7 linked regions of the Homo sapiens genome follow. The protein of the gene in region 7 purifies or fractionates together with the protein of the main gene of each other region. This does not show direct contact. Each region holds a gene or a part of one and is shown on either strand. Other genes may lie near its edges. The genes, in order: U2SURP, SNRNP70, SNW1, CHERP, SNRPA, ACTR1A and SF3A3.

Region 1 (3,500 bases), on a different chromosome or scaffold from region 7:
TGTCAAGAACTTCCTAAAAACTGCCAATACAGACTTGCAGGAGAATCTGAGAGGAGAGATTCCTACAACCACACAGTGTCAAATACAAAAACAATTTTGGGGTGATTACCAAACAGCAAAATCAAAATTATTATTTCTCTATATTTCAAAAGAAAAGATTTTTTCCTTTGTATTCATTCTTAGTTCTTCTGAAAGGTTTATATTTAAATAACACAATGGCCATAATGCAATCTTTTTCTTAGAATGTACAATCCAAAAGAAAGGAGTATAACCTTTCCTATTCACATTTTAAAAACCACTTTTTATGGAGCCCAAAACAGTATTTGATGGCAAAGGTTTGAAAAAAATGCAGTTGACCAATTAGTAACTACAAAGTGAGAATATAACCTAGCGTAAAAAACTCAAAAGCAAAATGAAACCAGATCCATCAAGACCAGAAAACAAAAGCTCTTTATTCACTGGAAAACCAATGGAGAACTAAAAATGATCCTCTCCCAAAATTTTTTAAGAGTGAAGTTTTCCACTTCACTATTATTTCAACTATATCTCTTAATGAAAAGGGGAGTGTATATGAACAAGAAACAGTATATTCAAAACTTAGATTCTTACTTTTGATTTTCTTCTTCTTCTGATTCTTCATGCTGGTCAAATAATTCCCATTTAGAAGTTGTAACAGCTGAATGAAAGGAAAAGGAGGATGTAATTCCACGAGGTAAACTAGCATTTTTTCAGTAGTACAGTGGAAGCTCAAGCTTTAGAATTGAAAAGTTTATATTACAGAAGTTTTTTTAATCTATGTTTATCAATTCTCTAAATAGTTATTTCTATATGCCAAATCTCTTTCCTCACACCTACAATATAATTCAAATTCATGAAGTGACGAATAATGTCATCCTTATTTCTGTGTTGAATATTAAGATTTATTTCATTAGAACCTACAAATAGCAACAATTAGATTATTAGCACTAGGATACAGGTCTAAGTAAGTGTGAAAGACAGGTCTAAATTGCATCTAATCAGTCTAGCATTATGGGAGGGTCAAAGCTTGGTTTCTATGAAACTGACCTCTATGTAGATTTCTACGTAGGTACAGCTTCCAATCTACATTTGCTACTAAAATGCCTTAACCTGAAAGGTTTTCAGTGATATCTCATTACTCTCAAAGCTTCCAAACTGAAGGACCTAAGAAAATTGTAACAGCAACACCAACCACAATAAAAGCATACATTAGACACAAAATATGACAACATTGAGCATTAAGGTTAAAACGTGTTATAAAACATAAAAGGAAAACATATATACAAGCACACCAATAATTAACGTACAAGTACTTAATTTAAAAAATATTTATTTTACTTTTACTCACCCTGTGCTTCCAATTCAGATTCATCCACAGCTTCCCATTTTGATGGGGCAACTTTAAATATAGGCTCATTCTTTTTTGAGTCTTCAGTTGCATCCACTATTAGGGAAAGATAAGCCATTAACCCTGACTACTAGTGGATGACCCGAAGTATTACATTCATGGGTATTCACCATATTATTAAAAAGCAAAGTAAAATAAGGACACAGATGGACAAATAGTAATACTAAGAACAAGGACTATGACTAAACCAATTCTCTGCATCTGAGGGCAATATTTTTAACAGTATATATATCAATTCAGAAAATACAGGTTAGTAATATATTAAGCAAGTGAAGAAGTTGAGAAGTAAAACAAATCTTTAATATCTTTACCTAATCTCTGAAATATAAAACTGCATACATTATTCAATATTTAAACATATAATTCAAATGTACCAAAGAGCTGTCTACAGTTCCTATTTTCAAAATGATTTTAGGCAGCTAGGAAAACTGAAGTTGTAAGTTAGAAAAACTAATAAAAACTGATAAAACCAGGTACCTAGGATCATGCATAACTGAGCACAAGATTTTGCCTATAATTTCCTGACAAGACAAAAAGAGAAACTTGCTAATATTATAGGAGGCTGATTGTCCCAGCAAAGAAATGTGACCAGAAAAAAATGCTTCTTCTTGGCCTTTTATATACATAGCATACAAATAAATGTATTACTGGGTATATGAATTTTGAAAAAAATCAGAAATAGAAAAGTTAATAACTTGATACGTTCATGAGAAACTATAACCTTTTTCCATATCAGCATGTATGGAAATTAGAGTTTTGGTCACCAAATGTATTAGCTAGATTTAATCAGTTTGAAATCTGAACTTACAAGGCACTCCATCAAGATCATCATCAAGACTTTTTATAGGGACTCCATCAAGATCATCGATGGGAGTAGCATCAATAGGAATTCCATCTACATCTTCCAGAGGTGCACCATCAAGCTCTTCCTCGATGGGGGCACCATCAAGGTCATCTGGAACATCCTATGGAAATGTGTACTATTATAACATTTTCCTTTGCTTGCTGAAGTCACATTGCTTGTAAGATTAATTTGTAATCCAGTACAAGCCAACATAACTGGATACCCACAATCTGAGGTACAATGTAAGAACATATTCTATCATCCAGTTTGCTAAAGAAGCAGTCAGTTGTGCATTTATCTAATATTTACCAAGTGCTCACTGGTGCCAGGTACCTTGTGAGGCAATGATGAGCAAAAACAAGTTTGGTCCCCCTGTTATAGAGCCTGGTAAAGGTTTTTGCTGTTGTTTTGCAGGGGTGGGGGAACCAGGAAATCAGATCATCACAACAATATATACTTATCTGTAACTATGGTAACTGCTACAGCAAAAGGGCGTATCATACTATTAGCATACTAAGTTTCACTTAAAGAGGTCAGAGAAGGCTAAGGTTATGTTTGAGCTGAGATCTGAAGGATCTCAGGTGAAGATAAGTCCCAGAAAGAGGGAAGGACATGTACAAAGTCCAATGGTAGGTGGAAACACACATTTAAGAAACTGAAACAAGGACCACGTGGGTTGCAACAGTAAGGCCAATTAGGAAGATCCTGCAGGAGTGAAAGTGAAAACATAATAGCTTGACTAGCATGGCAGAATTAAACATTAAGGATTCAGTAATTATTTAGGAGGTAAAAAAGAAAAAAAACAACAGAATGGTGATGTATATCTGCTATCATGTGATGCATCTTTTCATGCACATATTTTACTTATATAGCTATCTTTAACAAAATAAAGTCATGCTATACATATTGCTCTATTACTTGCTTATTTTCTACTATTAACAATATATCATAACTCTTATATCATTAAATAAAAAAAACACTCACCAATTTTCACATAAGGACACAAGACAGAGAATTCCTGTTACATGTAATTTTGACTTCTGGGTTCCAGCAATAAAAATCCACTACTTAATGGTAAGCAATAGATATTTTTCACAAAGAAATGTACCTCACATATGTAACACAGAACAACTCCAAGAAACCTCCACCCCAGAAACGAATTTTAAAAACAACCAGACAAATACAGACTGCCTACCTCTGTTTCCTTTTCTTCAATAATATTTACAAGTC
Region 2 (4,156 bases), on a different chromosome or scaffold from region 7:
AGCCTAGGCAACAGAGCGAGACTCCAAGTCAAAAAAAAAAAAAAAAAAAAAGTACCTGGCTCCCAGGCATGGTGGCTCACACCTGTAATCCCAGCACTCTGGGAGGCCAAGGGGGGTGGATCACCTGAGGTTAGGGGTTCGAAACCAGCCTGGCCTACATGGTGAAACCCCATCTCTACTAAAAATACAAAATTAGCCAGGCGTGGTGGTGCATGCCTGTAATCCCAGCTACTTGAGAGGCTGAGGCAGGAGAACTGCTTGAACCGGAGGCTGCAGTTGGCTAAAATCACGCCACTGCACTCCAGCCTGGGCAACAGAGCAAAACTGTCTCATAAATAAATAAATGGTAACTGGCACATGACCTGCATCATCAAAGGGCACCTACCACCCGCCTGTGCCCATTAAGTTAATTGGCCAGTAATATCTCTCAAGTGCGGGTTCACCAAGGGTGGCAAATCCCACTGAAGACATACCTTTCTGTTATCTACGAAATTCTGCTCTGCAACTCCCTCGCCTCCAGCTGCCCTTACCTACCCAATGCTAGAACGTTCTTCTTGTAACTTCCGACTGTGTGCCAGCTTTTCTCAGGTGTGCTCTGATGCACCTAAGAGATGACCCTTGTCATCCCATTTCACAAATAAAAACACAGAGGTCCAGGAGCCTAAGTCATTCATTCCTATTTATCCCAAAGGTGCAGAGCTAAGATCCCCATCTGCAGTTTTAAGCCCTCCAATACTCAATACTGGGTGCTAAGCCTTTATGAACATCATCTTATTAACAATAAAAGTAGTAAACAGAGTAACAAAGGCTGACATGTGCTGACTGCTTGGTGCCAAGCCCCCTGACATACAGTTTGCCATTTAATTCTCCACCAACATTATAAGGGTGCTACCACTATCCCCTTGCTAAAGATAAAGAAACCAATGCATTAAGAGGATACAACATTTGCCCAAAGTCAGAGCTGATAAATGGTGTGGGTTAGGCATGAATCCTCAACCACTACTCACTGAATTTTCACAAAAATTCTACAAAAGGTGTACTATCAACCCCACTTTTTTTTTTTTTTTTTTTTTGAGACAGTCTTGTTCTGTTGCTCAGGATGGAGTGCAGTGGCGCGATCTCGGCTCATTGCAACCTCCGCCTCCTGGGTTCAAGTGATTCCCGTGCCTCAGCCTCCCAAGTAGCTGGAATTACAGGCACCATGTCCGGCTAATTTTTGTTATTTTTAGCAGAGACGTGGTTTCACCATGTTGGCCAGGCTGGTCTTCAACTCCTCACCTCAAGTGATCCGCCTGCCTCGGTCTCCCAAAGTACTGGGATTACAGGCGTGAGCCACCGTACCGGGCCACAACCCCACTTAAAAAAAAAATTTTTTTTTTGAGAGACGAAGTCCTGCTCTGTCACCCAGGCCGGAGTATAGTGGCACAATCACAAAGCACTCCAGCCTCCGACTCCTGGGCTCAAGCAATCCTCCCACCTCAGCCTCCTGAGTAGCTGAGACTACAGACGCACTCGACCACACCCGACACCCGGCTCCAACCCCATTTAAAACAGAGAAACTGAGGATCACAAAGGTTAAGCCCCTCGCTTAAATCACGCAGCTGGCAAAATGGCCAGAAGCTGGACTCGCAAATCCAACCCGTTGCTCCCCAGAACCCAAACCATTCCTGGCCTGCTCAGTGAACTCACCTCAAACTCTCGAATGTACGGCGCAATGCCACAATAAGGTTGATTGTGGTGTTTTTCATGTGGCAGTTTCTCCAGGGGTGGCAGGTATGGAATAGGGTCACGGGGGGCAAAGAGGGCCAGAAGGTTGGGCGGCAGGAACTGGGTCATCTTGCCAAGTCTGAGAGCAGAAGCAGGACAGCCTTAGGTTAGATCGGGTCTGCACAGAGAAAGCCCCTGTTACTCCTTGACTCTCAAAATAAGAAAGACAGGAGAAAAGTCTCGGAATTAAAACAGGCTCTGTAAGGGCAGAGAACAGTCCTGTGTTGCGGAGAAAAGGGTACGTCTTGGTGGGGGTGGAGGTGAAAGGCCGGTAAAGAAAACAAAAATAACGGCTGGAAAAGGGTTCCTGAAGAGTGAAGTCTCAGAGTCCTCTGACACGAGCTGTGGGGCGGAGAGGTTCCCTGGGAATTTCTGGGGAAATCAAGGACCCGAGGAGGGAGGCCCAGAGCAGCTGTGGCTGCTCGTCCCGTGCCGTGGAGGGCAAATTACGAGATGCAGTTTGCAGGGTCCTGGGGATCGGAAGTTTCCAAGCAAAGAAAGAGAAACATAAGGAGCGAAGCCCCAAAACCAAGTGCTTGTGGGTAACAGACCTGGACCCCGCAAAAAGCGAAAGGAATTATGGGTAAGGGTCCAGGACAACATAGACAAACGAAAAAGAAAAAAGGCCACACACCGCAAGGGCCTGTGGGTAGGGAACCACGAGGGCGCTGTGGGAAGCGGGCGTGGGTGCCCAGAGATTTCGGGGTCCGGGAAAGGGATGCAGAAGGGACCTGTGGCGGGGACGCGGGAAAGGGGCCTGGCCGCGGGGAAGAGGACCGGGCCCACCGCTGGGGCTTCTGGGTAGCGGCCCCGCACCCCGTCGGGCCACTCAGTCACACTCACTCACCGCGTAGCGCCCTCCTCGCTCTGGCGTCTGTCCGGAGGCTCGCGGCGGCTGCGGCAGCCCCTCAGCAACAACAACTCCTGCTTCGGCTTCCACTCCGGGGGCGTCCACGTCCGTCTGATTCCGTCGCCCGCTAAGCGAGCGCACCAGGCCGCTGCTCAGCCACCCGCGCGGCCTCCGATAGCGACTGGAGCAGGGGGTGGGTCCCGGCCGCAAATCCCTCCGCCGTCCTCACTGCGCACGCGCCGTGCGGTGCCAACAACAACCCACACACTAGGACCCGGCGCTGCCGCGGGCACAGCGCACGCGCGAGGTCACTACCCCGCCTTTGGGCACCTTGAGTACCTCAGCCGCGGGGGGCTGGCTTCTGCACTGCGCGCGCGCGCTTGCCCCAAGCCGCCCCTCCACCTCCCGCTTTCCGCGCCGAACCGCCTATGTCCGCGAGACTCTCCCTGATGCTCCGCCCCTTTCCGATCACACTTCCCGGATCTTTCGCGCATGCGTTTTGCGTAGAGAACTGTAACGTACCTCTCCGCCGCCTAGCAAAGAGTCCCTAGGTGAACAGCCTGATTGCGTTGATGTCTAATCTATTCAATCAATAACTATTCATCGAGCATCTCGTGTGTGCTAGGCACTGTCTGGGCTTTGGGGGTACAGCACGTGATTAAAGCAAAGTCTTCTGCTGCTAGGGCTTACATTGTACTGGGAGAGACAATAAAAGCATTTAACTGAATAAAGATAATTTGAGGCCAGGCGCGGTGGATCACGCCTGTAATCCCAGAACTTTTGGGAGGCTGAGGCGGGCAGATCACCTGAGGTCAGGAGTGTGAGACCAACCTGACCAACATGGTGAAAGCCCGTCTCTACTAAAAATACAAAAATTAGCCGGGCGTGGCCGTGCGCGCCTGTAAGCCCGGTTACTCTGGAGGCTGAGGCGGGAGAATCGCTTGAACTCGGGAGGCGGAGGTTGCAGTGAGCCGAGGTCGTGCCATTGCACTCCAGCCTGGGCGACAGAGCGACTCCGTCTCAAAAGTAAATAAATAAATAAATAATAAAAGATAATTTGAGATAGTGGCCAGCATAATGAAGAACGATGGAGCAGAATAAAGGGATGGGAAGTGAGAGCGAGGCTGTTTTAGAAAGGGTGATAATGGAAGGCCCCTCTGAAGAGGTAACATTTGAATAAAGGACAGATAGAAGCGAGATCTGGGGTGGGGCCGGGGGGGCGGTGTTTAACAGTAAGTGCAAAGGTCCTGAACTGAGACCAGATGGCAGGAATCTCAGGTTGTTGGCCATGAGATCAGAGAGCTGGCACTTGTTATTTAGAGCCCTGTTCTTAAGTATTGTATCTTAAGTTTTGTGGATGGATTCAATAGCCTGTTTAATAACTACAGAAATTATTGCAAATTAAAATGACTAATTTTATGTTTCAAGAAAAAGGCCGAGTGCAGTGCTCACGCCTGTAATCCCAGCACTTTGGGAGGCCAAGGCGGGCAGATCACCTGAGGTCAATAGTTCGAGACCAGACTGATCAACATGGAGAAA
Region 3 (3,500 bases), on a different chromosome or scaffold from region 7:
CCATTATCGAGGCTTCTTCTGATTGCCTTAGTAGTAACCCCTCCCCACCCAATCATTTGCTCCATAGCACTGTTTACTGTGATCAAGACTGTTCACAGCATGAAATTATCTACTTTACATGGTTATTATCTGTCTCCCGTATTAAAACAATAAAAACGGGGAGGGCACGGTGGCTCACGCCTGTAATCCCAGCACTTTGGGAGGCCGAGGTGGGTGGATCACCTGAGGTCAGGATTTCAAGACCAGCCTGACCAACATGGTGAAACCCCGTCTCTCCCAAAAACAGAAAAATTAACCAGGCATGGTGGTGGGTGCCTGTAATCTCAGCTACATGAGACGCTGAGGCAGGAGAATCGCTTGAACCCAGGAGACGGAGGTGACAGTGAGCCGAGATCATGCCATTGCACTCCAGCCTGAGCAACAAGAGTGAAACTGTCTCCAAAAAAAAAAAAAAAAAAAAAAGTGTCTCCTGTGCTTTATAATAATGACTGGAGATATTTGATCAATATTTTTTGTACAAATGAATAAATAAATGAATTTTAGAGATATTCTGTTACATGCTAAAGGTGTTTATAGGCCATGAACAGTGACTCACGCCTGTAATCACAGCATTTTGGAAGGCCAAGGTTGGAGGATAGCTTGAGCCCAGGAATTCGAGACCAGCCAGGGCAACATGGCAAGACCTATCTCTATTTTAAAGAATGGATGGATGAATGAATAAATAAATAAGTTTATATTTTAGGCCGTACAGAACTTTCTATAAGCTACTGATTTCCCAGAAAAAACTATCTCATGGCTATACACTAAAATCTCCAGCTTGTTTTTCTCAGGAGTGAGAAGAGGGATCAGGTAAGAAAGCCTAAGATGATTTAGCACAAAACACGTACTACTGATATGTGAGTTATTAGTGTCACCATACTCTAAGAGTGTTGATTTTGGAAGGGACCATAAAGCTCACTCTACTGAAAAGAGTGAGGTTCAGTACATTAAGATCATACAGCTACTATCTGACCTCAAAAGTCTTATTTCCTCTCAGCATGGAAAAACCTATACAACCCTAAGCTGAAAATTATATAACAACACAAGAAAAAAATACCAATTCTATGAAGAGTTAATCATGAGGAGTTTATCACTTCTCCATAGCAACGGTTATAAGGAAAGGATTCTAAGTAAATGGCTCCCTGGTAGTCATGTATGTTCAACATAAAGTGTCAATACTAATTTAGCATACAAGAGTCATTTGCTGCTCCTTATTTGGGCATTCCAAAGTTAATAACCCTTCAAATGAGCATCAATAAGATTCTAGTATCTCACAAGGCTGAGTGAAGGACATCTGAAGAGCAAGATTCCTCCATAGTAATTAATTATAAAACCCCCCATTTTTTTTTTTTTGAGACGAAGTCTTGCTCTTGTTGCCCAAGCTGGAGTGCAATGGCGTGATCTCAGCTCATAGCAACCTCCGCCTCCCGGGTTAAAACCATTCTCCTGCCTCAGCCTCCCTCCCAAGTTGCTGGGATTACAGGCGCATGACACCACGTCCAGCTAATTTTTGTATTTTTATTAGAGATGGGGTTTCACCATGTTGGCCAGGCTGGTCTCGATCTCCTGACCTCAGGCGATCCACCCGCCTCGGCCTCCCAAAGTGCTGGGATTACAGGCGTGAGCCACAGCACCTGGCCAAAACCCCAAATTTTTATAGTCTGAGAATTAAATGTGCTGAGGAAACTGAGTACCAGGAGGCAAATGGGCTGGGGAGCGTTTTCTGAAAAATACAATATACTCTTGAAAGTATCAGAAGCACAAATAAGCTTTGTCAACAAGATAAAGTAGTAACTCATCTGTGAAACAGATATTTTATTACAGAAAACTGGCAAAGAACTAGACTGACTAAAAGGATAAGCCTGTCAAAACATTCACTATGTGAGGTAGAAAGAAAACGCTAATCTAGCTTAGCTAGTGTGTGAAATCATACAAACAAGATAACATATAATTTATCATGGGGTCAGTTTAAAGTTGTTACGGTTTTTTAGGGGTAATACGTTGAAGGCATTCTTTTGGGTATAGTACGTGTGTAACATTTCGTTTCTTTAAGAGATAGGGTTTCATTATATTGCCCAGGCTAGTCTCAAACTCCTGGCCTCAAATGATCCTCCCACCTCAACCTTCCCAAAGTGCTGGGATTACAGGCATGAGCCAATGCACTTGGCCTGTATGTAGTATTTCTTACATAACTATTTCAGAGGGAAAAATACATACACCAAGCCCTTTATTTCAAGATTTATCACTTGGCTGGGTGTGGTGGCTCATGCCTGTAATCCCAGCACTTTAGGAGGCCGAGGTGGGTGGATCACCTGAGGTTGGGAGTTGGAGACTAGCCTGACCAACACGGAGAAACACTGTCTCTACCAAAAATACAAAATTAGTCAGGCGTGGTGGCACATGCCTGTAATCCCAGCTACTCAGGAGGCTGAGGCAGGAGAATCACTTGAACCCGGGAGGCAGAGGTTGCGGTGAGCTGAGATCGTGCCATTGCACCCCAGCCTGGGCAACAAGAGCAAAACTCCGTTTCAAAAAAAAAAAAAGATTTATCACTTTCATAATTAGGAAAAAAAAAGCATTTGGTTGTATCAAGATTTACACTAAAAAAAACTTTTTCATCCCCAATTTTGTATGACTAATAAGTCGTATACACAGTACTTACTTCACATGTAGAGAATTGCCTTAGACTTGTCCTAGAATATTACGTCTTAGAATCCTCACTGATTCTTCTCACCTCTTATACCTAACACCTAGTATTTTCCATTCTTACTCATTCACTATTAATATTTCAGTGAGAACTCCCTCGTTTCTGAAGAATACCAGACCTCTCGGAAGCAAATCAGAAATCTTAGTCCAAATTCATAAATCCAATAACCTGTTCAGTCTCTGGAATAACAAATTTTTTAAATCCTATTTTATATATTATGCAGTCCATTTCTATTTCTTCTAAAACAGGAAAATCAGTGATTGTCAAACAGGGCATCACTGCCACCTCTAACTCCTCTCTCCCAGTGCCTTTGTAAATGTGTGAGGTGTTTCTAGTTAAGACAATGGGGGTAGGATGGGGACGCTACTGGGATTTATAGGTAGTGCCACTTATGCTAAACATTGTACAATGCTGAAGATGGTCCTAAACAATCAAAGTGCTCCCCCAGTGCCAATGGCACATAATAGTTACTTGATTAATGTTGAATTACTCAATGCATTCCAAACTTCATGCATGAATCTATCCACTTCTAGAAAACAAACAAACAAAAAGATATAAACCTGAGAGTGGTCCCAGTTTGGGGTTTGTTTCTAGTGGCTGCATTACAGACAAAAGCAACGATCTGGCCGGGTGTAGTCGCTCATGCCTGTAATCCCATCACTTTGGGAGGTTGCAGTGAGCCAAGATCGTGCCACTGCATTTCAGCCTGGGTGACAGAGTGAGACTCCATCTCAAAAAAAAAAAAAAAGAAAAA
Region 4 (3,500 bases), on a different chromosome or scaffold from region 7:
GCGGAAGGGTGGCTCGCGCTGGCCCCCGCCCCAGGGCGGCTGCTCGTGCTGGCTGTTCCAGGGGCCCTCGAACTGGCTGTTCCAGGCGGCGTCGGGCTGGTTGTTCCAGGGCGCGTCGCGCTGGCCGTTCCAGCCGGGGTCACCGCGCTGCTCGCCCCACATGCCCTCATGGCTGTTGTTCCAGGGGGGGCAGTGGGGTGGGCCGCCCTGGTGGTGCGGGTAGGGTGGCTGCTCTGGCGGCTGCAAGGGAAGGGACAGGCTTGAGCCCTGCGTGGTCTAGGCCCTAGTGCTCGGCAGCATCACAGCGCTCGGCAGCATCACAGCGCTGGCTCAGACCATGGAGGCGCTGCCCTGGCCACGTTGAGGCGCCTCCTACGCTGACGCCTGCGAGGATGCTGGGCACCTGCTCTCAGCCCGCACCACATGCTGCTGCAAAATGACCAGACACCCAACCGCTGCACCCGCATCTCAGTCCCGGGGCTGTTTCTGCCGCTGGGGCGCGCTGCACCCGCACACAGGCCGCCCGCGCCACAAGGTGCTCCCCGCTACCACTGCCAGACAAACGCCAGCTCCCTCGCCCCTCAGGGGCAGGTGCAGAGGCACAGACGGTATCGCTTCTCAGGGCACCCCAGGCACCCATGGGGCGGGGCTCACTCTGACACCCCCTGCCCTGCCTCACTCCCCCTCTCCCCAAAAGCCGTCTGCTGGGCAGATACACTGCGGCACACACATCCTTGTCCTGGGGTCTGCTTCTGGGGACTTTCAAACCAAGCCAGCATCTTCCTGTAGACTGAAGACGGGAGGCTCTTCCCTCATCAGCTTCTGCTCTGGAGACTTAAAGCCAGGAGGGCAAACTCCAGCTTGGGCAGGGGAGGGGAGGAGCACAGAGGCCAATGAGAAGGCCGGTGTCTAGGGTCACAGCTGGGTAACTGCGCTGACCCCTACTAAGGGGAGGCTGGCCCAGGCTGCCACATTCACCAGGCTTCCAAGAGAAGCCAGAGAGCCAGATATTAAATATCAGGAACTACTTGTTTTTCTTTTTCTTAATTTGAGACAGTCTCGCTCTGTTGCCCAGGCTGGAGTGCAGTGGCGCGATCTTGGCTCACTGCAACTTCCACCTCCCGGGTTCAGGTGATTCTCCTGCCTCAGCTTCTCGAGTAGCTGGGATTATAGGCGCCTGGCACCATGCCCGGCTATTTTTTTATCTTTAGTAGAGGCGAGGTTTCACCACGTTGGCCAGGCTGGTCTCAAACTCCTGACCTCAAATGATCTGCCCACCTCAGCCTCCCAAAGTGTGGGATTACAGGCGTTAGCCACCACGCCCAGCCTTGCTTTTCTTTTTTAGAGACAAGGTCTCACTCTGTCACCCAGGCTGGAATGCAGTGGCATGACCATAGCTCAATGAAGCCTGAAGTCCTGGCTGAACCAATCTTCCTGCCTCAGACCACTGTGTAGCTGGGACGACAGGTGTGCACCACCATGCCAGCTTATTTTTATTCTTTGTAGAGATGGAGTCTTGCCTTGTTGCCCAGGCTGGTCCCAAACTCCTGGCCTCAAGCAATCTTCCTGCCTTGAGAAATTACTTTTAAACGTGTTAAGACCCCACATGGCCAAGTCAAGCAGGCCAGGCTGCTGTTTCTCAGTGTGGACTGCAGGATGCACTGCTGGCCTAGCGGGCACCCTCAGTGAGGGGCGTGCCCATTGTCCTGAGCCCAACCCTCTGGTCTGCAAAAAGACTGAGCCTGGAGACACTAAGGGCCTGTTTCCACACCTACAAAACAGGGACAAGAACTGCCCCCCCCAGCAGAGGGTACCTGCAAAACAGCCACCACCATCTGGCTCCTGGCCAGCACTTGGAGGTGGGAGCTGTCTTTATGGGGGTGTCCAATCTTTTGTGAGGTTCAATTTCGTGTCCTGAAGCTGGGGATGGGAGGCTCAAAGCCACAACCACCAAGTCTCAGTCCAGAGCCAGTCTCCTTGCCATCCTTACACCTGTCCCTGCAGACAGGGAGTCACCTGGAAAGGCCACGCTGCGAAGCCAACCAGGCCCCACGGGCAAGGGGGAAAGTCACGCCCTGGAAGACCCGGGGCTGTGCCTCAGTGCTGAAAGTGGACCCAGCACGCTGCAGGGCATTTCACAGCCATGCTGTGCCACATAAGGTGGCCCCTGCCTTGGCCCAGGGGTATGTGACCCATAGCAAAGCTGCATCTGAGGCCTCCCAGGGGCAACACGGCTGACATTTCTGACATTCCCCCTTTCCTTACAAAAGCACCTTGTTCTTTCCAGGATGACAAAACACTGACACTCAACTAGCTTAACCTGTTTAAGGAGGACAGGAAACAGAACACCCTGCCGTGCCTTGCAGCGTTAAACTCCCCTGCACTCGCAGGACAATGGTGATCTATACTACAGAGAAGCCCAAACCATCAAAGCTCGGGGAAGGGACGTGAAGACCTGTCACTTGACCTGTCCCGGAGCCACAGGAAGACAGGGCTGTCACTAACCCAGCATAAGCTCTGCCACAGAATATCCCTCATTGTTCCCCAGTAAGCCACTCAACGCCCACCAACTGGCATAGGGGAGGCTACCCCATCAGGCCAAGTGTGCCCCATCTGCTCCCACCCCAGGTTCCAATCAATACCTGCTGCTGGCCCCAAGGAGCCACGGGGTGAGGCTGGTCAAACCAAGGGGGCTTGTTTGGTGGGATCTGGTCGTGTGGCCCGGGGCCCCGGGGGCCGGCAGCTGCAGGATCCTGGACCCCTCCTGGAGCTTCGTACTCTGAAGAGCCAGGCATCTGGATGGGAGGCTTGCTGTCATCTAAATCCAAGTGACAGGCAGTTAGAGCAGGCCTGGCAGCAGGAGGCGCTGTCTCCTCTCCACACTACCCCAGAGCAAACCAGGCTACCGCTTTTAGTGCCCAGTGGATGATCGCTTCAGGACCCACTAAAACCATGACTATCACTGGCTTCCAGGAAGGGGACAGGGCGAGGGGAGGTTTCGACCTTGAACATGACACACATCTGTCCTTTTCAAAGCTTTACAAGAAACAGGCCTCACTTCTGCCTTCTTGGTTTGCTGAAGAATTTCTATCCACACTGAATTTGATTAGACATCTTTACTGTATCTAATTAAAAGGTCATTTCCCCACATCTGTTATTTTCTATTCTATACAATCCTCATATTCCTACAACAAATCTTCTTTGATCAGAATGTAATTTTAAAATCCTTTGCTAGGCCGGGTGCGGTGGCTCACGCCTGTAATCCCAGCACTTTGGGAGGCTGAGGTGGGTGGATCCCAAGGTCAGGAGATCGAGACCATCCTGGCTAACACGGTGAAACCCCGTCTCTACTAAAAATACAAAAAAGTAGCTGGGCATGGTTGCGTGCGCCTGTAGTCCTAGCTACTCAGGAGGCTGAGGTAGGAGAATGGCGTGAACCCAGGAAGCGGAGCTTGCAGTGAGCTGAGATCACGCCACTGCACTCCAGCCTGGGCGACAGA
Region 5 (2,344 bases), on a different chromosome or scaffold from region 7:
CGCCCCATGATTTCAGCAGCACCAAGTTTCCTGTATTAAATTCCTTTCTGTTTGAACTACCTACTGTGGTTTCTCTGGGGCCATTGCTACAACAGGCTGCACTTTTGAGAAGAGTAAAAAAAAGGTGAAGAAACACCTCTCCCTGAACACTCTTGTCATCTGTTAGAAAAGTGGTGGCATAAACTTGTAAGCCTACAAAGTGAATGGTGTGCCCTTAAAAGGTGCCATTCTTGTGCAGTACCCATCCTGCCTAACTGTACGCGGCAGCCCTGACTTTCCATTTCCTGACCCAGGATTCCATTTCCTGCTGTGAATTGGGACAACATACAAAACTGCCAAAGTAGTCATTGTAACCTGAGTTTGAACAATATTACTACACTATCCTATGTTTCCCCAAGGTTGCAAACCTCAAAATGCCAAGAGGTCCAAAAACCCAGGATGTGCTGCTGAGGTGGAGGGAAAGGAACCATGAAGAGCAAGAAAATCAGACAGACAAATGATTGTGAAAAACCAAACCTCAAAAAGCCACTTTAATTCCGGCCTAACAGCGCCAGGTGCAATGTCTGGGGACAGACTCTGGGTACAATGCTGTGTGGCGACCACTCACTCACACACGGCTCCAAGAAGGCCCCCAAGGGGGGACTTACCTTCAGGGGGCTGAGCCAAGGGGGAAAGGGGTGGCCCCAGAACAGGGGAAGGGGCAGGCATGGGGGGAAAAGGTGCTACTTCTTGGCAAAGGAGATCTTCATGGCGTTGTTCTGCGTGATCTTAAAGCCCTGCAGGGCATCGCGAGCTGCCCCTGCCTGTACCTCATTGTCAAACTCCACGAAGGCGATGTCATGCCGCCCGGGTACCAGACGGACCTCCTTGAAGCCAGGGAACCTGAAAGAGAACGACAGACCTCAGGGACTCAGCATTTCCCCCTAACGTAACGGCATCAAGTGGACAGAGGCCAGAAATGATGCCAAATAGCCTCCAATGCACAGGGCAGGGCCCCATTACTCAGAATTATCCAGCCCAAAATGCAGATAGTACTAAGTTGAAAAACTCTAATGTAAACATAGCATTTAATGAAAAATTTAAACACAAACACCCATGCAACTGCAACCTAAATCAAGAAACAGTACACCGCAGTCTCCTGGGCCCTTCCTAAATCATAACCCACCCGCCACACCAAAAAAATAACCAATACCCTCACTTTTTCCATTTTTATTCTTGTATTTTTAGGAGAGAAGGGGTTTCACCAAGTTGCCCACATTGGCCTCGAACTCCTGACCTCAAGTGATCCACCTGCCTCAGCCTCCCAACATACTGGGATTTTAGGCGTGAGCCACCGCACCCGGCCTTACCCTCACTTTTCTGATATGCTGTTTCTCTAATTTCCCTCTTCTCATTCCATACTTCTTTCTCCATTAAGCAGCCATCCTCATGTTTACTAGGTATCCTTTTTTCCATCGGCATTCTCACAAAATATACAGCTTTGTGGACAGGCTGCACATGTGGTATTGTTTTTCTGTATTTTTCAGGTTCTCACAATCTTCTCTCGGCACTATTATAAAGTTGCGCTTTCTGTTCTTCTAAGTGCCACGCAGTGCAGCATGGTGAGATGCTGCATGTAGCCATCCCTTCTCCCAGACACCCTCCAACTCCCCACCACAAACACTGACGAATGCCCCACTCACAGCCCCTGAAACAGAACCACCAGATGAACTCACCCACACCCACGACTTCACTCAACAATGGTGAACAGCCCCTCTACACATCGGCTGCACCGGCCTCCACCCTGACGCCAGGCACAAGAGTTTCACGCATCCCCATCTCCCACACTTGCTGTTTCTGAGCACGCTGACTTCTGCCAGTCTTAGCCAATGTTCAAGGACATCTCAATGCAGTTTTACACATACCTTGCCTTGCATGCCCCCATTTTAGGGGCTGGGAAAATGAGGCCCAGAGCCTGGACTCCCTCAGCCCTCAAACAAGGCTGAAAAAAGCCGGCAAGCCCTGGCCATGGAGACCTTTCCAGCCTCACCCCCATGTCCCCCACAGGCCGTGGGCCCAGCCACAGCCTCCTCCTTTCACATCTTTGGTCGCTGTCCCTTCTGCAAAGCCCTACTTGGCTCAGAGCTCTGCTGGCAGAGTTCTGAGGCCTGTTTCCATGGAGATGCCTCCTGGCCATCACCCTCCAGGGACCACCCAGCCACAGGCCCCACTTACTGATTGAAAAGCATGGACAGCATGAGCTCGTTGGTCTCCTCTGGCAGGTTGGTGAGGAACAAGATGTGATTCGGTGGATTCTCAGAAAGCTGCGGGGGTATAGGGGAGTCGGTGAGCACAAGAGCCCTGA
Region 6 (3,500 bases), on a different chromosome or scaffold from region 7:
ATATATAGAAATTCAATTTCCTGTTTTCATCAGCAATGCAGAAGGAACAACCTGTCTATCCCACCAGCTCCTTTGCTTCTTGAATTGCTAGGCAGGAGTTCCATCTCCGGCCATTTTCTTTAATATCACTTACACTAATGCGTCTTAATTTTTTTCTTTCTCTTTCCTGGTAGTATGTTTCGAAATGCATTACAGCAGTGATGCATTTTTAGTTTCAAGATTTAAAGAATTGACTTGTCTTTTTTTTCCCCCTCTGGGAAAACATGTCCTTTATTATGCCAGTATTTCTGCCAAAAGGTGAAGTAGGAGAAACTTAAGTCATTTTCCTATTAGTATTTGCTGAAAATCTGCCACATTTTTACATGTGCGGTCTCAGGTAGTCCTTGTTGTTTAACATTTGGGGGGTCATTTTGTTTTTATTATTTTCAAGATGGTAGATGTATAGGAAACATTATTTGAAATACCTGAGACAACTTATTACATATAATGAGAATAATGTATCACTAGCTATGTTAACTCCATAGCTTAACATGTTGCTACACTTTATTTATGGGCAGAAGAGTATAATCAAAAGAATGCAGGAGAAAGAAAGCAGGGAAAGAGCCCCATTAAGTTCACAGCCTTTCCCAATCATAAGACAATTGTGACCACGTCTTTCATCTTACTCTGGCATCAAGTCATTTCATCAGAATTTAATGAGGAAAATGGAGGGGCAGGTAGGTGTGTGCTTTAATGACAACAATAAAGTGATAGGTATTTTTTTAATCACCCAAGAAGCTTTATGATGATAGATATTTTTTAAAACCAAATATAAGTCATTTCTTCCCAAAGACATAGAGAATAGTGTAAGATAGGAGCAGCTCCTAGGCCACATTTTGAGGACTACACTTTGATCAGAATACTATGTTTATTCTGAAACTCAAATTTTTCCTAAGATCCAGGCCAAATGTGGTGGCTTACTCCTGTAATTCCAGCATTTTGGAAAGCCAAGGCTGGAAGATCGTTTGAGCCCAGGAATTGGAGACCAGCCTGGGCAACATAGTGAGACTTCATCTCTACTTTAAAAAAAAAAAAAAATTAGCCAGGCTTGCTTGGTGGCATGCACCTGTAGGAGGCTGAGATGGGAGAATCACTTGAGCCCAGGAGTTTGAGGCTGCAGTGAGATCGTGCACCTCACTCCAGCCTATTTAAAAACAAAAACAAAAAAACTCTAAGTTTACAGTTTTGCCTGAACCTAAAATGGATCAACATTCCTGTCAAACTTAAAACTGTCTTTGTGACTATATGGACCTAAATGCAGGCTCTTCAGAAGTTCAACAATAAGCTAAGCATTTGTTTGTTTTGCTTTGGATGTTGTGCTGCTTCAGCCCCCTTTAAAAAAAAAAAAAGAGAGAGAGAGATACTTTAAACACACAGAAAAATTCGGTGTGGTATATAACAAGCACCCAGGTAGCATGTGTCTACTACCCAGATTTAGTAAATATTGATGTTGCCATATTTGCTTCAGTATTTTTTTTGCTTTAGTGTTCCCATCCACCTTCATGTTTTAAGGAAATAAAACATTACAGATATAATTGAAGACTCTTTGTACCCCTCCACAACCCTATCTTTTTTTTTTTTTTGAGACAAGGTCTCACTCTGTTGCCCAGGTTGGGGCTCATTGGCACAATCAAAGCTCACTGCAGCCTCAGCTTGCCAAGCTTAAGCAATCCTCCCACCTCAGCCTCCCAAGTAGCTGGGACTACAGCCGTGTACCACCTGCTCAGCCTTTTTTTTTTTTTTTGTAGAAATGGGGTCTCCCTGTGTTCCCCAGGCTGATCTAGAACTCCTGGGCTGAAGCAGTCCTCCCACCTCAGCTTCCCAAAGTGCTGGTATTACAGGCATGAGCCACTGTGCCTGGCAACCCTATCCTTTCTCTCTGTTTTACAAATAATCCGCAAAACAACCATCATCATAAAATTGTCCTCCTTTTATACTCTGGAAGATAAGTCAGGAGAATTGTGTTGTTCAAGGCCAGCCTGGGCAATACAGCAAGACCCCCATCTCTTTAAAAAAAAAAATTGTGCTCCTTTCCACCTATGATTTTTTTTAATTTTTAATTATTATTTGTTTTTAAATTTTTTTTAGAGATGAGGTCTCACTCTATCACCCAGATTAGAGTGCAGTGCTGCAGTCGTAGCTCACTGCAGCCTCAAACTCCTGAGCTCGAGCAAACCTCCTGCCTCAGCCTCCCAAGTAGCTGGGAGTATAGGAGGAGCAAGCCACCATGCCTAGATCCATCCATGATTTTATGTGCATATGCATTTTAAGTTTGGCAGGGGAGTGTGCTGTTTGTGTTTTGAAAGTTTACTTAAGTGCTATCATCCTACTGTTATCTCTTTTTATTATAGCAATTTCAAACATACAAAGGAGAAGGAATAGTGTAAGGAACATCCATACGTTCACCTAGCTGTAACAGTTATCAAACTCTTGGCCAATCTTTTCAACTACATTCCTGCCCATTTCCCTCTCCCACATTCTTTTTTTTTTTTTTTTTTTTTTCCTGAGATGGAGTCTGCTGTGTGGCCCAGGCTGGAGTGCAGTGATGCTCACTGCAACCTCCACCTCCGTGGCTCAAGCGATTCTCCTGCTTCAGCCTCCCGAGTAGTTGGGACTACAGGCATGCACCACCATGCCCAGCTAATTTTTGTATTTTTAGTAGAGACGGGGTTTTGCCATGTTGGCCAGGCTGGTCTCGAACTTCTGGCCTCAAAGGATCCACCCGCCTCAGCCTCCCAATGTGCTAGGATTATAGGCGTGAGCCACCACGCCCAGCCCCACACTCATTTAAAAACATAATCAATATACTATTATCATGCCTAATCAAATCAACAAGAACCCCTTAATCTTATCAGTTATCTAGTCAATGTTCAGATTTCACTAATTGTCTAAAAAAATTTTTCTTTTACAATTTGTTATCAGCTTTTCTGATCCTACTAATGCTGATTCACTTAAGTTTTTAGGGACACTAGAATTAGCTGAGGAAATGAAGTCAATGTATTTATCTAACACTGTCACTTGCAGTGTGATATTCAGGCTGTTGGTTGTACAGCTTCAGCAAGAATCCATCCCTAGCTTGACAGAAAAGGTGAAGAAGAGGTGACTTATAAAGATATTTTCACTGTTCAATTATGTATATTTTGCAAGCCAAGGATGTGCTTCACACTGAGCTAAGTCCTCTGAGGGTAAAAAAGAAATCAGATACCATGTGGAAGAAGAAACGTCACCAATTAGTGGCTGCAAATGCCTAGAATAGGGATTTCAAATTCAATGCCTGCAGAGGCCAAGCAGGAATGGAAATATACTCAAAAGAGAAGAGAGAGAATAGCCTGAAAGGCACCTCTTCCAGGCTGGGAAATCTGAAAGGTGCATTGAATTGAGCATGCCTGACCAAAATGTTAACTGATTCTCCTTTCTATCCAATTGTCCCCATGCAGGAATACCGGCCTAGTGTTGCCAGA
Region 7 (3,500 bases):
GCTACAGTGAGCCAAGATCGCGCCACTGCACTCCAGCCTGGGTGACAAAGTGAGACCCTGTCTCAAAAAAAAAAAAAAAAAAAAAAGATTTATTTTGGCAAAGGTAAAATATGCTTGCTGTATTGATAATGGACTGGGTACAATGGCTCATGCCTGTATCCCAACACTGTGGGAGGCCGAGACAGGAGGATCATTTGAGGTCAGGAGTTTGTGACCAGCCTGGGCAACACTGCAAGACCCCATCTTTACAAAAAAAGACAAAAATTAGCCAAGTGTGGTGGTGGTATGCACCTGTAGCCTCAAATACTCAGAAGGCTAAGGCAGGAGATCACTTGAGCCCAGAAGTCGAGGTTGCAGTGAGCAAAGATCATACCACTGCACTCCAGACTGGGCAACATGGTAAGACCTCATCTCAAAATAAAAAAAAAAGTATTAATAAATAAATATGCTTCTTGTTTTCACTGTAGAAAACTTTCATTTTGAATAGTATTTCATTCCAAGAGAGCATATCACCTCTTTAATATTTACATAAGAGTTTTAAAACACAAGGAAGACACTTTACAATGGCTTCATGTCTGCTAGTTCCAGCCTACTGTCCTGACTCACTTCGAGAATCAGAACCTCTCTGCCCTTTCCCAGGCCTTACCTCAGATGCCTTCAGGTTAATGTACTTGAGGTAACAGTCATGGAGATCGAGATAACGACCATATCCCTCTTCATCTGTGAACTCCACCAAGTCTGAGGGAATCAGATACATCAATGATTCAGTTTCTACAGACCACTCTCTTGGACTTACCTTTTCAAATGGACTGTGTGTTCCTAGTTTCCTGAGGCAGCACTTCACCCAAATGTCTTCCCTTTGCTCACAATATAACCTCCAATAAGTTAAGTGAGATCAAAAGTGAGTTTTCTCTTACAAGGTAACAAGGACTGACTCATTTTAGTATTGTGAACTAAAGTGAACAATCCTTGGCTTTCCAAGCCAGTAAATTTGAGGTAGGAGAGAACAAAATGAACATTTTGCCCAAGACCAACTTAGGATGTCACTCTAGCCCAGAAACCAGCAAAGACAAAACCAGCAAGAAATCCTGGCTATAAATATCTCTGAGGCCATGGCTGCAAATCTGAGCTGTCATTAACCTGTATTTTTGCTGGTGCTGAATGAAATTTTCACCCCTACTTACTTTGTGCCTCTTCACTTGGATTCTCTCGAGCCTTCAGGAGTTCCTCAAATTCCACTGACATTGGCACACAGATCTGAGGGGAAAAGTAAAAGCTCAGGTGGATTTTTCTTTTTGCTTTTGAGATGGATTCTCACTCTGTGGCCCAGGCTGGAGTGCACTGGCACAATCTTGGCTCACTGCAACCTCTACCTCCCGGGTTCAAGCGATTGTCCTGCCTCGGCCACCCGAGTAGCTGGGATTATAGGCACACACCACCACGCTTGGCTAATTCTTGTATTTTTAGTAGAGACAGGGTTTTGCCATGTTGCCCAGGCTGGTCTCAAACTCCTAAGCTCAAGTGATCTGCCCACCTTGGCCTCCCAAAGTGCTGGGATTACAGGCATGAGCCACTGTGCCTGACCGCAGGCGGATTTTTCAATGTAAAAGTTGCAAGATCACAGAAATGAAATACACAGAAAGTTGGACTTCTGATGATTTATTTGGCCTTGATTTTTCACTAGGAAATCTACTACTGTTCTCCAATTACCTTGTTTTTCCCCGCTTTTTTGTACTGTTTGAGTAAAACCCACTAAAGTAACACATGCTCACAAAAACTCAAAAGTCCACCTTTATTAATTCTCCTGAGAACAGGTGACCACTGTTAACAGAGCTTTTGCTATGCCAGTGGTTCCCAAACTTTGCTGCACATTAGAATCACCTGGGGGAGTTTTTTTTTTAAATCCTGATGCACCTGATACCAATTAAATCAAAGGAGGGCAGGTATCAGTACTTTTTAAAGATCCCCAGGTGGCTCAAATATGCACAAAGTTTGGAAAACAGTGCTCTATGTATTTAAATATATGTATTTGTACAAGTACATTCATGCCTGCATAGGTTTTTGTTTTTGTTTTTTTAACATAAAAGACTTGCGTCTGACATTTAGTATATCTTGGGCATCCTTCTAATCAGTTATTTAAGCATTTATTCCTCATTACCTTTTGACCATGGCTGGAATAAGGTTAACACATCAGAATGGTATTCATTTATTCTCCCTTGGTTAGCAGAAGACCTCATTCTCTATCCTCCAAGGGGGCTATGTGTGTGAGGGTCCCTTCATTTACCTCCGCGCTATGTATTGCAATAAACAGCCTCTATTTTTTGCTGTTTTTAGTCTCTTCCTTTTTCCCTGTGCTCCTTCAAATAAGTATGCTTCTCTGTCTTCCCCAATACCCTCCTGTTTCTCCCCTTCTTTTTCCTACCAGACTTTTTTTTTTTTTTTTTTTGACGGAGTCTTGCTCTGTTGCCCAGGCTGGAGTGCAGTGGCGTGATCTCAGCTCACTGCAACCTCCATGTCCTGGGTTCAAGCGATTCTCCTGTCTCAGCCTCATGAGAAGCTGGGATCACAGGCGTGCACCACCATGCCCGGCTAATTTTTGTGTTTTTAGTAGAGAGAGGTTTCACCATTTTGGCCAGGCTGGTCTCCAACTCCTGACCTCAGATGATCGACCCGCCTCGGCCTCCCAAAGTGCTGGGATTACAGGCGTGAGTCACTGCACCTGGCTACCAGCCTTTCAAATGCATGTTCCATACTCCATACTTCTACTTCCCCATTACCCATCTTTACCTTGTGACCAGATTTCCATTCATACTACTTTAATGAAGCAGCAATCCTGGCAGATATAAATCAATAACAGTTGACACCATGACTGCCTTTCTGAAACTCTCTTTTGCTTAACTTCAGTAAGGCAACACCACCTGGAGTGGTCATGTGACCTTTCTGATGGAAGCCTTCCCAGGCCCTTTTTCTCTTTACCTTATTATAAGTGAGCTCCAGGGCATATGAGGGCCGGGCGCGGTGGCTCATGCCTGTAATCCCAGCACTTTGGGAGGCCGAGGTGGGCGGATCACAAGGTCAGGAGATAGAGACTATCCTGGCTAACATGGTGAAACCCTGTCTCAACTAAAAAATACATAAAATTAGCCAGGCGTGGTGGCAGGCACCTGTAGTCCCAGCTACTCAGGAGGCTGAGGAAGGAGAATGGCATGAACTCGGGAGGTGGAGCTTGCAGTGAGCCGAGATCATGCCACTGCACTCCAGCCTGGGCAACAGAGCGAGACTCCATCTCAAAAAAAAAAAAAAAAAAAAAGACAGAGTTAGGAACACAATTTATTGGGGAGAGTAATTTCTGTGAAAGATAAAAAGGAAGAGAAAGTAGGATTAGGACAGGATAGCCTAGACCACAATGCAGATTGGACAAAATCTTGACCAACCCAACGGGGAGCCATGGAGCAAAGATTATTCATCAGAGGAGTCTCAGAGTGGACCAAATTGCTGGG

What was found.
Region 1: the proteins of SF3A3 (region 7) and U2SURP purify together in Homo sapiens (affinity purification with mass spectrometry; 2 studies listed by BioGRID, with this or other methods). This does not show direct contact.
Region 2: the proteins of SF3A3 (region 7) and SNRNP70 fractionate together in Homo sapiens (co-fractionation; 3 studies listed by BioGRID). This does not show direct contact.
Region 3: the proteins of SF3A3 (region 7) and SNW1 purify together in Homo sapiens (affinity purification with mass spectrometry; 2 studies listed by BioGRID and IntAct, with this or other methods). This does not show direct contact.
Region 4: the proteins of SF3A3 (region 7) and CHERP purify together in Homo sapiens (affinity purification with mass spectrometry; 2 studies listed by BioGRID, with this or other methods). This does not show direct contact.
Region 5: the proteins of SF3A3 (region 7) and SNRPA fractionate together in Homo sapiens (co-fractionation; 4 studies listed by BioGRID and IntAct, with this or other methods). This does not show direct contact.
Region 6: the proteins of SF3A3 (region 7) and ACTR1A fractionate together in Homo sapiens (co-fractionation; one large-scale study listed by BioGRID). This does not show direct contact.

What each region holds. Positions count from the first base shown.
Region 1 is NC_000003.12:143,036,070-143,039,569, reverse strand, and holds part of U2SURP (U2 snRNP-associated SURP motif-containing protein), read right to left. Parts: coding exon 3,466-3,500; intron 2,392-3,465; coding exon 2,235-2,391; intron 1,463-2,234; coding exon 1,367-1,462; intron 677-1,366; coding exon 610-676; intron 1-609.
Region 2 is NC_000019.10:49,084,095-49,088,250, reverse strand, and holds the start of SNRNP70 (U1 small nuclear ribonucleoprotein 70 kDa), read right to left. Parts: upstream 2,801-4,156; 5' UTR 2,615-2,800; intron 1,847-2,614; 5' UTR 1,837-1,846; coding exon 1,690-1,836; intron 1-1,689. UniProt on the Homo sapiens protein: Component of the spliceosomal U1 snRNP, which is essential for recognition of the pre-mRNA 5' splice-site and the subsequent assembly of the spliceosome. SNRNP70 binds to the loop I region of U1-snRNA.
Region 3 is NC_000014.9:77,740,657-77,744,156, forward strand, and holds part of SNW1 (SNW domain-containing protein 1), read right to left. Parts: intron 1-3,500. UniProt on the Homo sapiens protein: Involved in pre-mRNA splicing as component of the spliceosome. As a component of the minor spliceosome, involved in the splicing of U12-type introns in pre-mRNAs.
Region 4 is NC_000019.10:16,525,438-16,528,937, forward strand, and holds part of CHERP (calcium homeostasis endoplasmic reticulum protein), read right to left. Parts: intron 2,819-3,500; coding exon 2,643-2,818; intron 241-2,642; coding exon 1-240. UniProt on the Homo sapiens protein: Involved in calcium homeostasis, growth and proliferation.
Region 5 is NC_000019.10:40,763,546-40,765,889, reverse strand, and holds the end of SNRPA (U1 small nuclear ribonucleoprotein A), read right to left. Parts: intron 2,304-2,344; coding exon 2,215-2,303; intron 883-2,214; coding exon 723-882; 3' UTR 501-722; downstream 1-500. UniProt on the Homo sapiens protein: Component of the spliceosomal U1 snRNP, which is essential for recognition of the pre-mRNA 5' splice-site and the subsequent assembly of the spliceosome. U1 snRNP is the first snRNP to interact with pre-mRNA.
Region 6 is NC_000010.11:102,496,213-102,499,712, reverse strand, and holds part of ACTR1A (alpha-centractin), read left to right. Parts: intron 1-3,500. UniProt on the Homo sapiens protein: Part of the ACTR1A/ACTB filament around which the dynactin complex is built. The dynactin multiprotein complex activates the molecular motor dynein for ultra-processive transport along microtubules.
Region 7 is NC_000001.11:37,983,523-37,987,022, forward strand, and holds part of SF3A3 (splicing factor 3A subunit 3), read right to left. Parts: intron 1,258-3,500; coding exon 1,185-1,257; intron 739-1,184; coding exon 647-738; intron 1-646. UniProt on the Homo sapiens protein: Component of the 17S U2 SnRNP complex of the spliceosome, a large ribonucleoprotein complex that removes introns from transcribed pre-mRNAs.